Linked DNA regions of Homo sapiens. The protein of the gene in region 1 purifies or fractionates together with the protein of each later gene. This does not show direct contact. Each region holds a gene or a part of one and is shown in the gene's direction. Other genes may lie near its edges.

The links. The genes of interacting proteins can lie anywhere in the genome.
Region 2: the proteins of HINT3 (region 1) and DHRS3 purify together in Homo sapiens (affinity purification with mass spectrometry; one large-scale study listed by BioGRID and IntAct). This does not show direct contact.
Region 3: the proteins of HINT3 (region 1) and ESS2 purify together in Homo sapiens (affinity purification with mass spectrometry; one large-scale study listed by BioGRID and IntAct). This does not show direct contact.
Region 4: the proteins of HINT3 (region 1) and NUCB1 purify together in Homo sapiens (co-immunoprecipitation; 2 studies listed by BioGRID and IntAct, with this or other methods). This does not show direct contact.

The regions. Positions count from the first base shown.
Region 1 is NC_000006.12:125,955,570-125,959,569, forward strand, and holds the start of HINT3 (adenosine 5'-monophosphoramidase HINT3), read left to right. Parts: upstream 1-1,200; 5' UTR 1,201-1,408; coding exon 1,409-1,609; intron 1,610-4,000. UniProt on the Homo sapiens protein: Exhibits adenosine 5'-monophosphoramidase activity, hydrolyzing purine nucleotide phosphoramidates with a single phosphate group such as adenosine 5'monophosphoramidate (AMP-NH2) to yield AMP and NH2.
Region 2 is NC_000001.11:12,570,311-12,573,210, reverse strand, and holds part of DHRS3 (short-chain dehydrogenase/reductase 3), read left to right. Parts: intron 1-357; coding exon 358-483; intron 484-2,900. UniProt on the Homo sapiens protein: Catalyzes the reduction of all-trans-retinal to all-trans-retinol in the presence of NADPH.
Region 3 is NC_000022.11:19,141,852-19,145,890, reverse strand, and holds the start of ESS2 (splicing factor ESS-2 homolog), read left to right. Parts: upstream 1-1,239; 5' UTR 1,240-1,250; coding exon 1,251-1,385; intron 1,386-1,398; exon of another isoform or gene 1,399-1,767; intron 1,768-2,996; coding exon 2,997-3,165; intron 3,166-3,257; coding exon 3,258-3,353; intron 3,354-4,039. UniProt on the Homo sapiens protein: May be involved in pre-mRNA splicing.
Region 4 is NC_000019.10:48,920,592-48,923,872, forward strand, and holds the end of NUCB1 (nucleobindin-1 precursor), read left to right. Parts: intron 1-562; coding exon 563-733; intron 734-1,235; coding exon 1,236-1,341; intron 1,342-1,726; coding exon 1,727-1,833; 3' UTR 1,834-2,781; downstream 2,782-3,281. UniProt on the Homo sapiens protein: Major calcium-binding protein of the Golgi which may have a role in calcium homeostasis. Acts as a non-receptor guanine nucleotide exchange factor which binds to and activates alpha subunits of guanine nucleotide-binding proteins (G proteins).

The DNA.
Region 1 (4,000 bases):
TTGGCAAAACTCTAATGTATTGATTCTGAACTCTGCTTTGGGGTGCTGAAAGGCAGTGAAGCTATTGTAGTGGTTCCCCAAACTACGGGCCAACTACAAAAAGGAATGAAAAATGTCTTGAATGTATATGTACAACAATTCAAAACACATACAACCACTTTTTATTACAACATAAATCCATTAAAAATCATTACTGAATTCCCAATTTGTTATGTATTTTCTAAATCAGCAAATACCAAGGGTGTAACTACTATAGTGAGCTAGTCCAACAAATTTTTTGGTGTTAAAAAAGGAGTGCTGTATGTCAAAAAGGTTGGTGGGTTTTGGAGTTAGACAAACCTTGATCTTAAACTCTGTCACTATTAATTAGTTGTGTGGGACTGGGCAACTCTGAGTTTGGTCCTTCATCTCTAGAGCGGTGGTTATAAAACCAACCTTGCGTTTTTTGACAATTAGAGAAATATATGGCATGTTTTAGATGCTCAGCAAGTGGGAAGTATCACAAAACGAAAAGCTGAGGTCAAATCAGAGTCCACCTTGAACACCAAGCTAAGGAACTGGTACTTTTTCTTTGAGCACATAGTTACAGAAGGTTTTGTCTGAGTGACAGGAAAATCAATAAGTAAGTTAGAAGGTGATTGCGTTGGTCTAGGTGAGGCATTATGAGGCACTGGCATTGAATTTCTGGGATATTTCAGAGTATTGACTATAGGACTCCACATCTACTTGTATATGAGGAATGTGAGATTAAAAAAAAGGTCGCTAGTTTGATCTAACTGTGCTGTTAACAACAATAAAAAGTCAACAGAGATGTAAAGGTCAGTTTTGGACATTTTGAGTTTAAACTCCTACAATTATCGTGGCTGAAAAAGCAGCAAACATGATGTCTGTTGAAAACAAGGCTTTAGGAATTTTGCTCATTCTTTAAAAACCTACGAATTTTAAAAATCAAACTTTAAAAAACTTTTTGTTTTTTTTTTTAAAAAAACGGCAGCGTAATACAATATTTGGACACGCTATACTATGGGCTTTGAAGAACGCCTGTCCAGAACACCCAACAAGCTCCATTATGTCAAACGCTCCCGCGCCTCTGTGATGTCACCACGACGCGCTGGGCGCTCTGCGACTTGGCAGACGTCGTGCGTCATTACCAACGAGGCGCAGGGGTCAGGACGACTCTCGGCAGCGCCATTGCGCGCCCTCTAGTGGCAGCCGGTTTTGAGGCCGGCCTCCGGCTTTGAAGTTCCTCACCGCGTCTCCTTCCCTCTCCCCAAAGCCTGGATCACCGCCCAGCGTCAGGCGAGGGGCGACGTCTCGAGGTAAAACGGAGGAGGTGCGGGACGCGGAGACTGCGCGGGCCCGGTAGCCCTGGAGAGGCCGAGGCTCTAGGCCGCGAGGGGCGGGTGCAATGGCGGAGGAACAGGTGAACCGCAGCGCCGGCCTGGCCCCCGACTGTGAGGCCTCGGCGACTGCAGAAACTACGGTTTCCTCAGTGGGGACCTGTGAAGCCGCTGGCAAGTCACCAGAGCCCAAGGACTACGACAGCACCTGCGTGTTCTGCCGGATCGCGGGGCGGCAGGACCCGGGCACCGAACTCCTGCACTGCGAGGTGGGCGGCGACGCGCGGCCGGGGGTGGGTGAGGACCTGGCCGCCCCTCGGAGCTCCGGCAGGGAGGCCTCGCCGTTGTGGAGCGGGTGCAGAGGATCCCGATCGCTACTCAGCTCGCAGAGGCAGGGCCGCTCTGTGTGGATGGGGCTCGGGGAAGCTGGGGATACGCCCACTACGGGCCTTTCTGCAGGGTCCGGGTGCTGATGACAGACTCACTCCTAGGGGACTGACAGGCAGTGGCTCCAGCGGTATCTTTGCTGTTCCCAGGGGCAAAGAGTGAATGACAGGGCCGAATGCTTTGGCCTATGTTTGCAGGTACCCAGGTAGTTGGTACAAATAACATTTTGTGGCCTCTGCTTTTATTACAAGGATTCTTCTCCACCTTCAAGATACTGATTTTAAATCCTGCACACTCTAATACCGATACTGATGAGAAAACTAGTAGAAAATAGGTAATGATAATTGTGGAAAGCTGTTTGTTAGATTGGCAGAAAATAGGCTGGAGGGAGTGGGTCTGAGGTCAAACTATTATTGAATTGCCTCTGAATTCCACTGTCAGTTGGGATGCGTGGACATTTTCAGAGCATGAAGACTTTGCCCAGATATTTTTAAACGGATAATCTGGCACACACTTTATTCTGTTGGTTTTACTTGTCCATATAGAAACAACTTTTTGAGAGAATTAGCTCCAAAGATTGTGTCTTTTGTAGTAAACATTCCTTTATTTTTTAAAAAATAAATATAATTCCTTCTAAGCACCTTGTTTTGGAGGTTTTTGAGCAAGATAAGGGACAGTCTGTGTCCCGATTTTACAATCTAAAGGGCGGAATGTATACAGAGGAGGTAGCCAGTTACAATGCCTCGTGCTGTGGTCAGGTGATTTTACAGTATTTTGTAAGCTTGTGGGAGGAGCATCTAACCCAGCTCTGAAGAATTAGGGAAGGCTTTCCAGAGGAAATGAGACATGAAGAAATAAGTAGGAGTTGATCAGATGAGGAAATGGAGAGAATAATGTCCCAGGTTGAGAGACCCCCCGAGAGGTTCAGTTTGTGTGATAGAAAAACTAACAGAAATTGTCTAACTAGTGCATAGAGTTTGAGAGGATGAAAGGCGAGGCTGGAGAGGTAAACAAGGGACCAGATTATTAAGTGTGTTGGAAGTCATGTGAAGGAATTTGTCTTTATCTGAAGAGCAAAGTGAAACTTCACAATGTTTAATGGTGGGTTGGGAGGAAGATGTTGCGGAGTTATAGGAAGGGGGTTGATCTTTGAAAGGTCATTCTGGCATCATTGTGGAGAATGATTTGGAGGAGACCAGTCTGGAGGTATGGAGACCCGTTAGAAGGCTAGTAGATTAATCTACCCTGATGATGGCCTGAAATGAGAATGTGGTAGAGGAGATTATGAAAAGTATATCAATTTAAGGGATACAGTATTCAGGAGGTAAAACAGGGAGGACTTGATGGATACAGGTCAGTGATTCTCAACTGGGGGCAATTTTGCCCTCCCAGGGTACATTTTGCAATGTATTGAGATACTTTTGATTGTAACAACTTCTGGCACTTCTAGGGGTTGCTTCTGGGACCTAAATAATGGATAAAAGCCAGGGTTGCTATTAACATGGTACAGTGCACAGGACAGCACCCCCACCACCCCATCAACACACACACATAAAACAGGCTTATCCAGCCCTCAAAATGTCAGAAGTGCCAAGGTTTAGAAACCCTGATTTAGATATAAGAGGATAAGGAAATGAAAGAGGGTGAAGTCAAAGATGATTTCCAGGTTTCTGGCTAGGGTAAACTAGTAGTGGTGGTACCATTTCATTAAGCTCGGGAACACAGGAGGAGAAAAGATGGCCAGGGGAGTGGTGGGAGGTAGCAAAGCGATGAGTTGAGCTATGGAGTTGTGGAGTTTGAGGTGAGTTTGAGGCATCTAAGTAGAGATGTCTTTTAAATGGTTGGATAGTCTAGCACTCTGTAGAGGGATCTGTATCTCTAACCCAGATTACAGGAACTGTCGGTTTATAGATGGAAACTGAAAAAGAAGGGAAGCGATGAGATCACCCATGAGGTAAAAAGTGAAGGGGAGGCCTACACAGAACTCTGAAGAACACTAACATCATAAGGGACAGACAGAGGAAGAGGACCTGGAAAGGGAATAGAGAAGGAACAGAGAAATAGAAGGAACGCTGGAAAGGCTAAGAGAAGGGAGTATGTCAAAAAGAAAGGAATTGCCAGCAATGTCAGCAGCAATATTAGCCTGCCTTCATCCTCAAATCTGGGTTAGATGACCCTTGTATGTCCTTGCAGAGTCAGAGCAGGACTGGTTGTGTCCCCAAAGTGATGTTCATTGACCTTGAGGAGAGCAATTTCATGAAGTGGTGAAGCAA
Region 2 (2,900 bases), on another chromosome or scaffold:
CCTGAAGGAGCAGAGTGTAGGGAAAAGGACTCAGAAGGACAACCAGGGCCCAGATTACGCAGGGCCATGGAAAGGCCAAGCCCTAGGGCACTGGGAGCCCTTGGAGGGCTTGGGAGAGTGGGTCCCCAGTGGGTGGGCTAGAAGTCCTTGACTCAAGAAGAGACCCCTGTGTGCCTGGAGGAGTGAGGGAATGTGGCACCTGGATGGGTGTGGGGTAGAGGGAGTATTCCAAGCAGGCCTCGAATCTCTCAGACAGGAAAAGCCAAAGGGTGACCCAGACATGTCAGCCTCATAAAGACTTCCAGATAAGCACATGCCTCTCCAGGAGAAACCCACTGTGTCTCTTCCTGTGTTCAGGTTTCCCAACCTCTTTCCCCCACTGAAGCCGGAGACGGTGGCCCGGAGGACAGTGGAAGCTGTGCAGCTCAACCAGGCCCTCCTCCTCCTCCCATGGACAATGCATGCCCTCGTTATCTTGAAAAGGTATGGGGCTGGGAAAGAACACTCTGGGTCAGGGGAAAGTACGCATGTGATCTATTAGTCATGTCTGCTGCGGGCATGAGCATGAGGAGTGCTGGCACATTTGCTGCTGATGTACTGTACTTACTGTGGGGCAGCAGTTCTCAAACTTGTTAGTCACGGGGCCCCTTAGAGTTTTAAAAAGTATGGAGGAACCCAAAGAGCTTTTGTTAATGTGAGTTGTAGCTATCGCTATTTACTATATTAGAAATTAAAAGCCAGGGCCAGGCGCAGTGGCTCACGCCTGTAATCCTAGCACTTTGGGAGGCCGAGGCAGGTGGATCACGAGGTCAAGAGATTGAGACCATCCTGGCTAAAATGGCGAAACCTTGTCTCTACTAAAAATACAAAAAGAAAGTAGCTGGGCATGGTGGTGGGCGCCTGTAGTCTTAGCTACTCGGGAGGCTGAGGCAGGAGAATGGTGTGAACCCAGGAGGTGGAGCTTGCAGTGAGCCGAGATCGTGCCACTGCACTCCAGCCTGGGTGACTCAGCAAGACTCCATCTCAAAAAAGAAATTAAAAGCCAGAAAAATGTTGTAAGTTGTATACATTTGTTTATAATATTTATTCATTTATAAATAGCTATAACAAACCCATTACATTAATATAAATATATTTTTATGACAACTAGTTATGTATTCTAAAACAAAATAAATGTAGTCAGGAGTGGCATTGTTCTACCTTTTTGCAAATCTCTTTGTTTGGCTTAATTGAAGACAATTGGATTCTTATATGTGCATCTGATTTCAATTTGTTGTGATATCTCGTGTCACGTAGCCTCTGGAAAATTCTACCATTCACTGAGAGAATGAAAGTGAAAAGACAAATAACATCTTAGTATTATTACAGAAACAATGTGGCCGGGCACGGTGGCTCACGCCTGTAATCCCAGCACTTTGGGAGGCCGAGGTGGGTGGATCACCTGAGGTTGGGAGTTCGAGACCAGCCTGACCAACATGGAGAAACCCTGTCTGTACTAAAAATACAAAAAAAATTAGCTGGGTGTGGTGGCGTGTGCCTGTAATCCCAGCTACCTGGGAGGCTGAGGCAGGAAAATTGCCGGAACCCAGGAGGCAGAGGTTGAGGTGAGCCGAGATCGCACCACCGCACTCCAGCCTGGGCAACAAGAACAAGACTCCGTCTCAAAAAAAAAAAAAAAAAAAAATTGACCTCACAGACCCCTGAAGAGATCCCGGGTACCCCAAAGGTTCCTGGACCTCACTTTGAGAACCACTGTTCTACAGCCTATTGGACATAGCCCCTGCCCTCAGGAAGTTTACTATTAGAGGGAACATGGGGATCTTGATGCCAAGGGCTCAGAATTCACAGAAGCGTCTTAGTACCAGTCGGGTGGGATGTAGCAGGGCAGACCACTTTGGGGAGGCAGGCTTTATAAATGAGAGACTCCTCCTCCAGAATTTGCCTGGCATCCTATTCCCCTAGAACTTTCCAGGCTTTGTGCAGCAAATCCTTCCCATCCCAGTCCCACACTCAGTTTTCTTGGGCCTCTTAGTACAGCAGGAGATCCTTGTCCCTGGTGCCACAAGTGACCATGGGCTCTTGGCTCCCCTGGGGCTCTGGCCCCCTCCTGACTGAGCCCCTCTGACCTGGAAGTCCTTTTCAGGAAGGTAAGCCCCCAAGTGCCAGGCTGGCCCCTGCTCTCATGCAACATGCACTCCCAGGAAAGCCAACTTCTGCCCTGGCTGCTGGGACATGGTGAGCCCCAGCTGAGGGGCTGCCCCAACACATGCAGGGCACAGAAACCTCGAAACTGAGGCGCAAGCCCGATCAGCCCTCTCTTCCCCAAACTCAAAGCCCTTTCAGAGGCACAGGGAAGGGGGCACCCAGGGGCATCCAGGCCACACCTCGGCCTCCCTCAGTCCATCCTGACCTCGGGTCTGAGATGCTCCTCAGCCGTCTCTAGGAGCCCCTAGTTGATCAGGGGCTCAGGTCCTCACTGAGGTCAGGCTGCCACCCTCCACCTCAGGGGAGCTTCTTAGAAGACTTCCAGAGCTTTCTAGAGAAAAGTTGGTCTAGAACACCTCAGCGCTCTCCACAGTAAGCCCTCAGCCTTCATTTTCCAACCTTCCCCACAACTACTTTTGAACAGGAAGCAGGAGCCACCCCGCTCCCCATTCTCTGAACTGCATCCCTCCTCACCTTCCCCAGGAGAAAGCAAGGCTCAACTCTAATACCACCACCCCCAGGAAGCCTTCCAGATTGCTCCAGCTGGAAGTGAACCCTTTTCATCTTGTACTTAGAGTGGGCCAGGACCCTTCAGTTTGAGTCACCAAACAGCCTGAGGGCCCTCTCTGTGCCGGGCCCATGTGAGGGCCTGGGGATCAGAGATGAAATACCCGCCATGAAGGCCCCCACAGGCT
Region 3 (4,039 bases), on another chromosome or scaffold:
TACCACCACTTTGTATTTTTTTTTTTTTTTAGTAGAGTTGGGGTTTCACCATGTTGGCCAGGCTGGTCTCAATCTCCTGACTTCAAGTGATCCACCTGCCTGGGTCTCCCAAAGTGCTGAGGTTACAGGCGTGAGCCACCGTGCCTGGTCTTGAATGAGAATGATCCCTCTTCTGGGAAGCCCACTCTGGCATTTGGGGGCCCAATAATCTTTTTTTTTTTTTTGACAGAGTTTTGCTCTTGTTACCCAGGCTGGAGTGCAATGGTGCAATCTCAGCTCACTGCAACCTCCGCCTCCTGGGTTCAAGCAATTCTCCAGCCTCAGCCTTCCGAGTAGCTGGGATTACAGGCGTCCACCACCATGCCCAGCTAATTTTTTTGTGTGTTTTTAGTAGAGATGGGGTTTCATCTTGTTGGCCAGGCTGGTCTAGAACTCCTGACCTCAGGTGATCCGCCTGTCTTGGCCTCTCAAAGTTCTGGGATTACAGAATAATCTTTAGACATTTCTTAATCGAACCACTGTCTTGTTCTTTCACCTTTTGTTAGATAACTATAAAAAAAAAAAAAAGATTGTTTTGGCCGGGTGCGGTGGCTCACGCCTGTAATCCAGAGACCAGCCTGACCAACATAGAGAAACCCTGTCTCTACTAAAAATGCAAAATTAGCCGGGCGTGGTGGCCCATGCCTGTAATCCCAGCTACTCGGGAGGCTGAGGCAGGAGAATCCCTTGAACCCGGGAACTCCGGTGAGCCGAGATCATGCCATTGCACTCCAGCCTGGGCAACAAGACCGAAACTCCGTCTCAAAAAAAAAATTGTTTTAAGGCCCTTTTCTTGCATAAAGCTTGAAACTCCTATATAAGTAAATTTCCTGGTTTGTATTTTTGTAGAATAATCTCGAAGCATACATAGTTCTTATTTGTGGGAAATTAGAATTCTAAGGCCTTTGGACGCTGCAAAGCCAGAATTTCTCGCGTGAAGAACACGCCCTATAGCATCCTCCCCGCCACCTCCACAGCACCCCCTCGTGTTCACAGCATTGACAAGCATGAATAGCGCGGGGCAGGACAAGGACTACATTTCCAATAAAGTCTAGCATTTATAGTGACGTCAGAACGGAGCGCGGGCTGGCTTTCTAGAGCCACAGCTTTTCCATTGGCCAACTATTGGAGGCGCCTGCGCAAATGGTGCAGTCCCGCCCCCTCCACCCTGTGACGCGCCTGCTGGGCCCGAGCTTTTTCCTGGGATAGCGATGGAGACGCCGGGCGCATCAGCGTCGTCCTTGTTGCTTCCCGCCGCGTCCAGGCCCCCGAGGAAGCGCGAGGCGGGAGAGGCTGGGGCTGCGACGAGCAAGCAGCGGGTCCTGGACGAGGAAGAGTATATCGAGGTACGACCTCGGTGCGGACGCCGGCGACTTCTGGGCCCATCCTCTGCTTCAAGCTCCTCTCAGGTTCCCTCTCTCGGGTGTTGACACTCCGTCTCCTCGTGGAAGTGGAGGAGCCGGGTGTGGACGGTCCCACGAGTCAAGTAAACAGGGCAGAGGAAGACGTCTGTGGTGGAAGAGGCTGTAGTAGTGTTGTCAGGGAAAAGAGAGAGCGGCTCTCTTTGTATGGGACGGGGGTCAGGGAAAGAAGATTTTCTGTTAAAGTGTGAGTAGGAGTTTGACAAACTGGAAGGATGGTGGCAAAGAGGGCTTTCTAAAGAGCGGTGGCAGCAAGTGTGAATGCTGGGGTTCCTGGAAAGAGACCGCAGTTGTGACAGCATCTCGAGTGAGTGGACCTGCGTCGCCCCACCACACGCACACAGAAGGAGGAGCTGAAACGGGGATTGGCGGAAGTCAGTTTGGTTTTAGACCTGTTTAATTCGGGACACCTTTTGGGATATGTAGATGGATGGCTTTAACGGACGGTTGGGTGCCCAGATATGCAGCTCGGGAGCAAGGTCTGGCTGGAGGTGCAGACTTGGGAATCTCAACTTGTGGTAGTGACTGGCTGAAGTTACTCAGGAAAAAGGTTTATTTTTATTTTATTTTTTGAGACGGAGTCTCGCTCGTCGTCCAGGCTGGAGTGCAGTGGCGCGATCTCGGCTTACTGTAACCAACCTCTGCCTCCTGGGTTCAAGCCATTCTCCTGCCTCAGCCTGCCGAGTAGCTGTGACTACAGGTGCCCGCCACCACGCCCGGCTAATTTTTGTATTTTTAGTAGTGGTGGGGTTTCACCATGTTGGCCAGGCTGGTCTCGAACTCCTGACCTCAGGTGATCCGCCCGCCTTGGCCTCTCAAAGTGCTGGGATTACAGGCGTGAGCTACCATGCCCCGCCAGGAGAAAGGTTTAGATTGGAAATAGAAAGTCATGTGTGGAATGAAAGTGACAACACCCACATTGGTCTGGCTTGTGGGGAGCCAGCAATGGAGAATGAGAATGACCAGTTAGCAAGGGCGAGAGAGAAGGGTTTCACGGACTTCAGAAGAGTGTTTAGTAATGTTAGAGGTTGCAGCATGGCTACCATATGGGATGCTCAACCCCACTAGAAAGTGCCCTCAAGCTCCCTCAATCCAGCCCCAGTCATTGGGGAAGTAGAATTTGAAGGAGGTTCAGCAAGTTCCTTAGCATGTACAGCAGTGGACCTGTGAGGCAGGAGCACCCAGACTGCAGCTCCGACTTTCTTTTTTCTTTTTTTTTTTTTTTTTTGAGACGGTCTCGCTCTGTCGCCCAGGCTGGAGTGCAGGGGTGTGATCTTGGCTCACTGCAACCTCCGCCTCCCGAGTTTAAGCGATTCTTCTGCTTCAGCCTCCCACGTAGCTGGAATTACAGGTGCCTGCCACCACGCCCGGCTAATTTTTGTATTTCTAGTAGAGACTGGGTTTCACCATGTTGGCCAGGCTGGTCTTGAACTTCTGACCTCATGATCCACCTCCCTTGGCCTCCCAAAGTGTTGGGATTACAGGTGTGAGCCACCGCGCCTGGCCTCTGACTTTCATTCTGATCTCTCCTTGCAGGGCCTCCAGACGGTCATCCAAAGGGATTTCTTTCCTGATGTGGAGAAGCTCCAGGCACAGAAGGAGTACCTGGAAGCCGAGGAGAATGGAGACTTGGAACGGATGCGCCAGATTGCCATCAAGTTTGGCTCTGCCTTGGGCAAGATGTCCCGGGAGCCCCCGCCACCCTGTATGAGGACCCTGTGGGTGGCGGAGAGGGGAAAGCCTGCTGAACTGTCGCTTCAGGCTCACTCTAATTCTTATCCCCCTCTCTTCCCCTAGATGTGACTCCAGCCACATTTGAAACCCCTGAGGTGCATGCAGGCACTGGAGTGGTGGGCAACAAGCCCAGGCCCCGCGGCCGAGGCCTGGAGGATGGTGAGTGAGGGTGCCCTCTTTAAGTCACATGGTCAGGATTGCCTGGGAATCTTAGCCTGTGAGGCCCTGAGGGGGTGGTCCAGAGGGCTGCAGGCCACATCTTGTTCCTGAGGGGTCTTGCGTAAATAGCAGCCTGTGAAGTCAAAGGACATTGGTCTAGGTGGTAGAACATCTGGGTCCAGCTCCCACACATGGCTCGCCTCTGTGAAATGGGACTCTCACCAGCTCTTGCTGGCTTTTCTGCTGTGTTCCAGCCCTGCCCTGTGGGCTTCATGGATGTTGGAAGGCCCCTTTTGTTACTATCCTGAAGATGCCTCAGGGCCTCTCCATTTGTTTCCTTCATGTTGGTCACTTCCCAGATAACTGCATGGCTCACTGTGTTTCTTCCTGTAGATCTCTGCATAGGTGTTACCTGTTCAGAGAAACTTTTCTTGACCTGCCAGTGTGAAGTCACAACACCACTGGTGCTCTGTGGCTTCCAGCCTGGCTTTGGTTTTTCATCACAAGACATTTTATTTTATTTAATTTCATTTTATTTTTAATTTTTTGACACAGAGTCTCGCTCTGTCACCCAGGCTGGAGTAAAATGGTGTGATCCCGGCTCACTGCAACCTCCACCTCCCAGGTTCAAGCAATTCTCCCTGCCTTAGCCTCCCAAATAGCTGGGATTACAGGCGCCTGCCACC
Region 4 (3,281 bases), on another chromosome or scaffold:
CAGCTCATTGCAACCTCCACCTCCCAGGTTCAAGCAATTCTCCTGCCTCAGCCTCCTGAGTAGCTGGGATTATATGCATGTACCACCATGCCCTGCTCATTTTGTATTTTTAGTAGAGACGGGGTTTCTCCATGTTGGTCAGGCTCATCTCAAACTACTGACCTCAGGTGAGCCACCCACCTCGGCCTCCGAAAGTGCTGGGATTACAGGTGTGAGCCATGGTGCCTGGCCTATTTCTATATATTTTTCAAGATGCCCAGCCAATTTTCTGTAGAGACAGGGTCTCGCTCCGTTGCCCAGGCTGACCTTGAACTCCTGGCGTCAAGTGATCCTTCCCACTTTCGCCTCCCAAAGTCCTGGGATTACAGGTGGGAGCCATGGTGCCCGGCCTTGTCTCTCGGTCTTTATCCCACTCCCACCTCCCACTTGGGCTTCTTTGCCCACCCACATGGCCCTGGCCTCCCAGCCTCCTCTACACCTCCCCCATTGGCACAACCCTCTCCAACATGGGTGGGCCGAGGTTGGACCTGTGCCCCTGATGGCCCCTGTGCCTGCCCTGCAGACAGTGGAGATGCACCCTGCCTACACCGAGGAAGAGCTGAGGCGCTTTGAAGAGGAGCTGGCTGCCCGGGAGGCAGAGCTGAATGCCAAGGCCCAGCGCCTCAGCCAGGAGACAGAGGCTCTAGGGCGGTCCCAGGGCCGCCTGGAGGCCCAGAAGAGAGAGCTGCAGCAGGTGACAGCGGGGGAAGCTGCTTCCATCCACTGAATCTCTGGCTGCCCGTGTCCGTGTCCCCATGGGTGTCCAGAAGCTGGGAAGGCCTGTGGCCACCATGTTAATCACTGGGGGAGCCTCAAGTATTCACCGCCATCTTGAGTAAGGGCAGACGTTTTCCCGTCTCTGACGGCTCTGTGGCTGCCATGTGAGATAAGGGCATTAAGGCTGTAAGTGAGGAGGGAAAGGCCCAGGAGGGGGAGAAAGGCAGACTCAGCCAGGGATGGGTGAGGGTTTCCCTGTCCCAAAGCAAGACCCAAGCTGTGACTGGAGGGAGAACTGGATCCTTGACTATTATTAAGCCCGACTGTCAATGAAAGAGAGAAACTGAGGCCCACGGAGAAGGGGTTGGCCGTGACCACTTAGCAGGCTGCTGTGAAGTCTCCGTTTGGGGACTGAGGCCTGAGCACTTGCAATGCCAGCATCACACCCTCTTGTCTGTGTGACCCCCCACCTCCCACAGGCTGTGCTGCACATGGAGCAGCGGAAGCAGCAGCAGCAGCAGCAGCAAGGCCACAAGGCCCCGGCTGCCCACCCTGAGGGGCAGCTCAAGTTCCACCCAGACACAGGTGCTGGCCCTAGTCCAGGGAGGAGGGGCTGCAGGGCTGGACCCCTGGGTCTGAGGTTGGAGGGGCTGGGCCTGGACTCCCAGATCTGAGGGAAGAGGGACTGGGGGCCCAGACTCCCAGATCTGAGGGAAGAGGGACTGGGGGTCCGGACTCCTGGGTCTGAGGGAGGAGGGGCTGGGGGCTGGGACCCCTGGGTGTGAGGGAGGAGGGGCTGGGACCCCTGGGTGTGAGTGAGGAGGGGCTGGGGGCTGGACCCCTGGGTGTGAGGGAGGAGGGGCTGGGGGCTGGACCCCTGGGTGTGAGGGAGGAGGGGCTGGGCCTCTGGGGTCCTGGGGGAGGAGGGGTTCGGATGTCCTGTGCCACCATTCCCTCCCTCCATTTCCAGACGATGTACCTGTCCCAGCTCCAGCCGGTGACCAGAAGGAGGTGGACACTTCAGAAAAGAAACTTCTCGAGCGGCTCCCTGAGGTTGAGGTGCCCCAGCATCTGTGATCCTCCGGGACCCCAGCCCTCAGGATTCCTGATGCTCCAAGGCGACTGATGGGCGCTGGATGAAGTGGCACAGTCAGCTTCCCTGGGGGCTGGTGTCATGTTGGGCTCCTGGGGCGGGGGCACGGCCTGGCATTTCACGCATTGCTGCCACCCCAGGTCCACCTGTCTCCACTTTCACAGCCTCCAAGTCTGTGGCTCTTCCCTTCTGTCCTCCGAGGGGCTTGCCTTCTCTCGTGTCCAGTGAGGTGCTCAGTGATCGGCTTAACTTAGAGAAGCCCGCCCCCTCCCCTTCTCCGTCTGTCCCAAGAGGGTCTGCTCTGAGCCTGCGTTCCTAGGTGGCTCGGCCTCAGCTGCCTGGGTTGTGGCCGCCCTAGCATCCTGTATGCCCACAGCTACTGGAATCCCCGCTGCTGCTCCGGGCCAAGCTTCTGGTTGATTAATGAGGGCATGGGGTGGTCCCTCAAGACCTTCCCCTACCTTTTGTGGAACCAGTGATGCCTCAAAGACAGTGTCCCCTCCACAGCTGGGTGCCAGGGGCAGGGGATCCTCAGTATAGCCGGTGAACCCTGATACCAGGAGCCTGGGCCTCCCTGAACCCCTGGCTTCCAGCCATCTCATCGCCAGCCTCCTCCTGGACCTCTTGGCCCCCAGCCCCTTCCCCACACAGCCCCAGAAGGGTCCCAGAGCTGACCCCACTCCAGGACCTAGGCCCAGCCCCTCAGCCTCATCTGGAGCCCCTGAAGACCAGTCCCACCCACCTTTCTGGCCTCATCTGACACTGCTCCGCATCCTGCTGTGTGTCCTGTTCCATGTTCCGGTTCCATCCAAATACACTTTCTGGAACAAATGCATGGCTCCATGCCTGTGTATCTGGACTGGTCCCTCCAAAACGCTATTGCCACGTCACCTGCCGGAGTCCTCATCTTTGAAGACTGGATTCAAGCATCACTTCTGAGAGGCTCAATCCTGGTATTTTTCCATCTGCCCCTGATGAGTCTGCAGCCTTCACTCAGGGTCCCTTCAGCCACAAGGACAGAAAACCCAAACCTGGGATTAAGCAATTTTTTTTTTTTTTTTTTTTGAGATGGAGTCTTACTCTGTCACCCAGGCTGGAGGGCAGTGGTGTAATCTCAGCTCACTGCAACCTCTGCCTTTTGGGATCAAGCGATTCTCCTGCCTCCGCCTCCCGAGTAGCTGGGATTACAGCTGCCTGCCACCACGCCCGGCCTTCTAATTTTTGCATTGTTTTAGTAGTGATGGGGGTTTCACCATATTGGCCAGGCTGGTCTTGAACTCCTGACATCATGATCTGCCCACCTTAGCCTCCCAAAGTGCTGGGATTACAGGAGTGAGCCACTGCACCTGGCCGGGATTAAGCAACTTTTAAAAGATGAATTTGGCCAGGTGCTGTGGCTCACGCCTGTAATCCCAACACTTCGAAAGGCCAA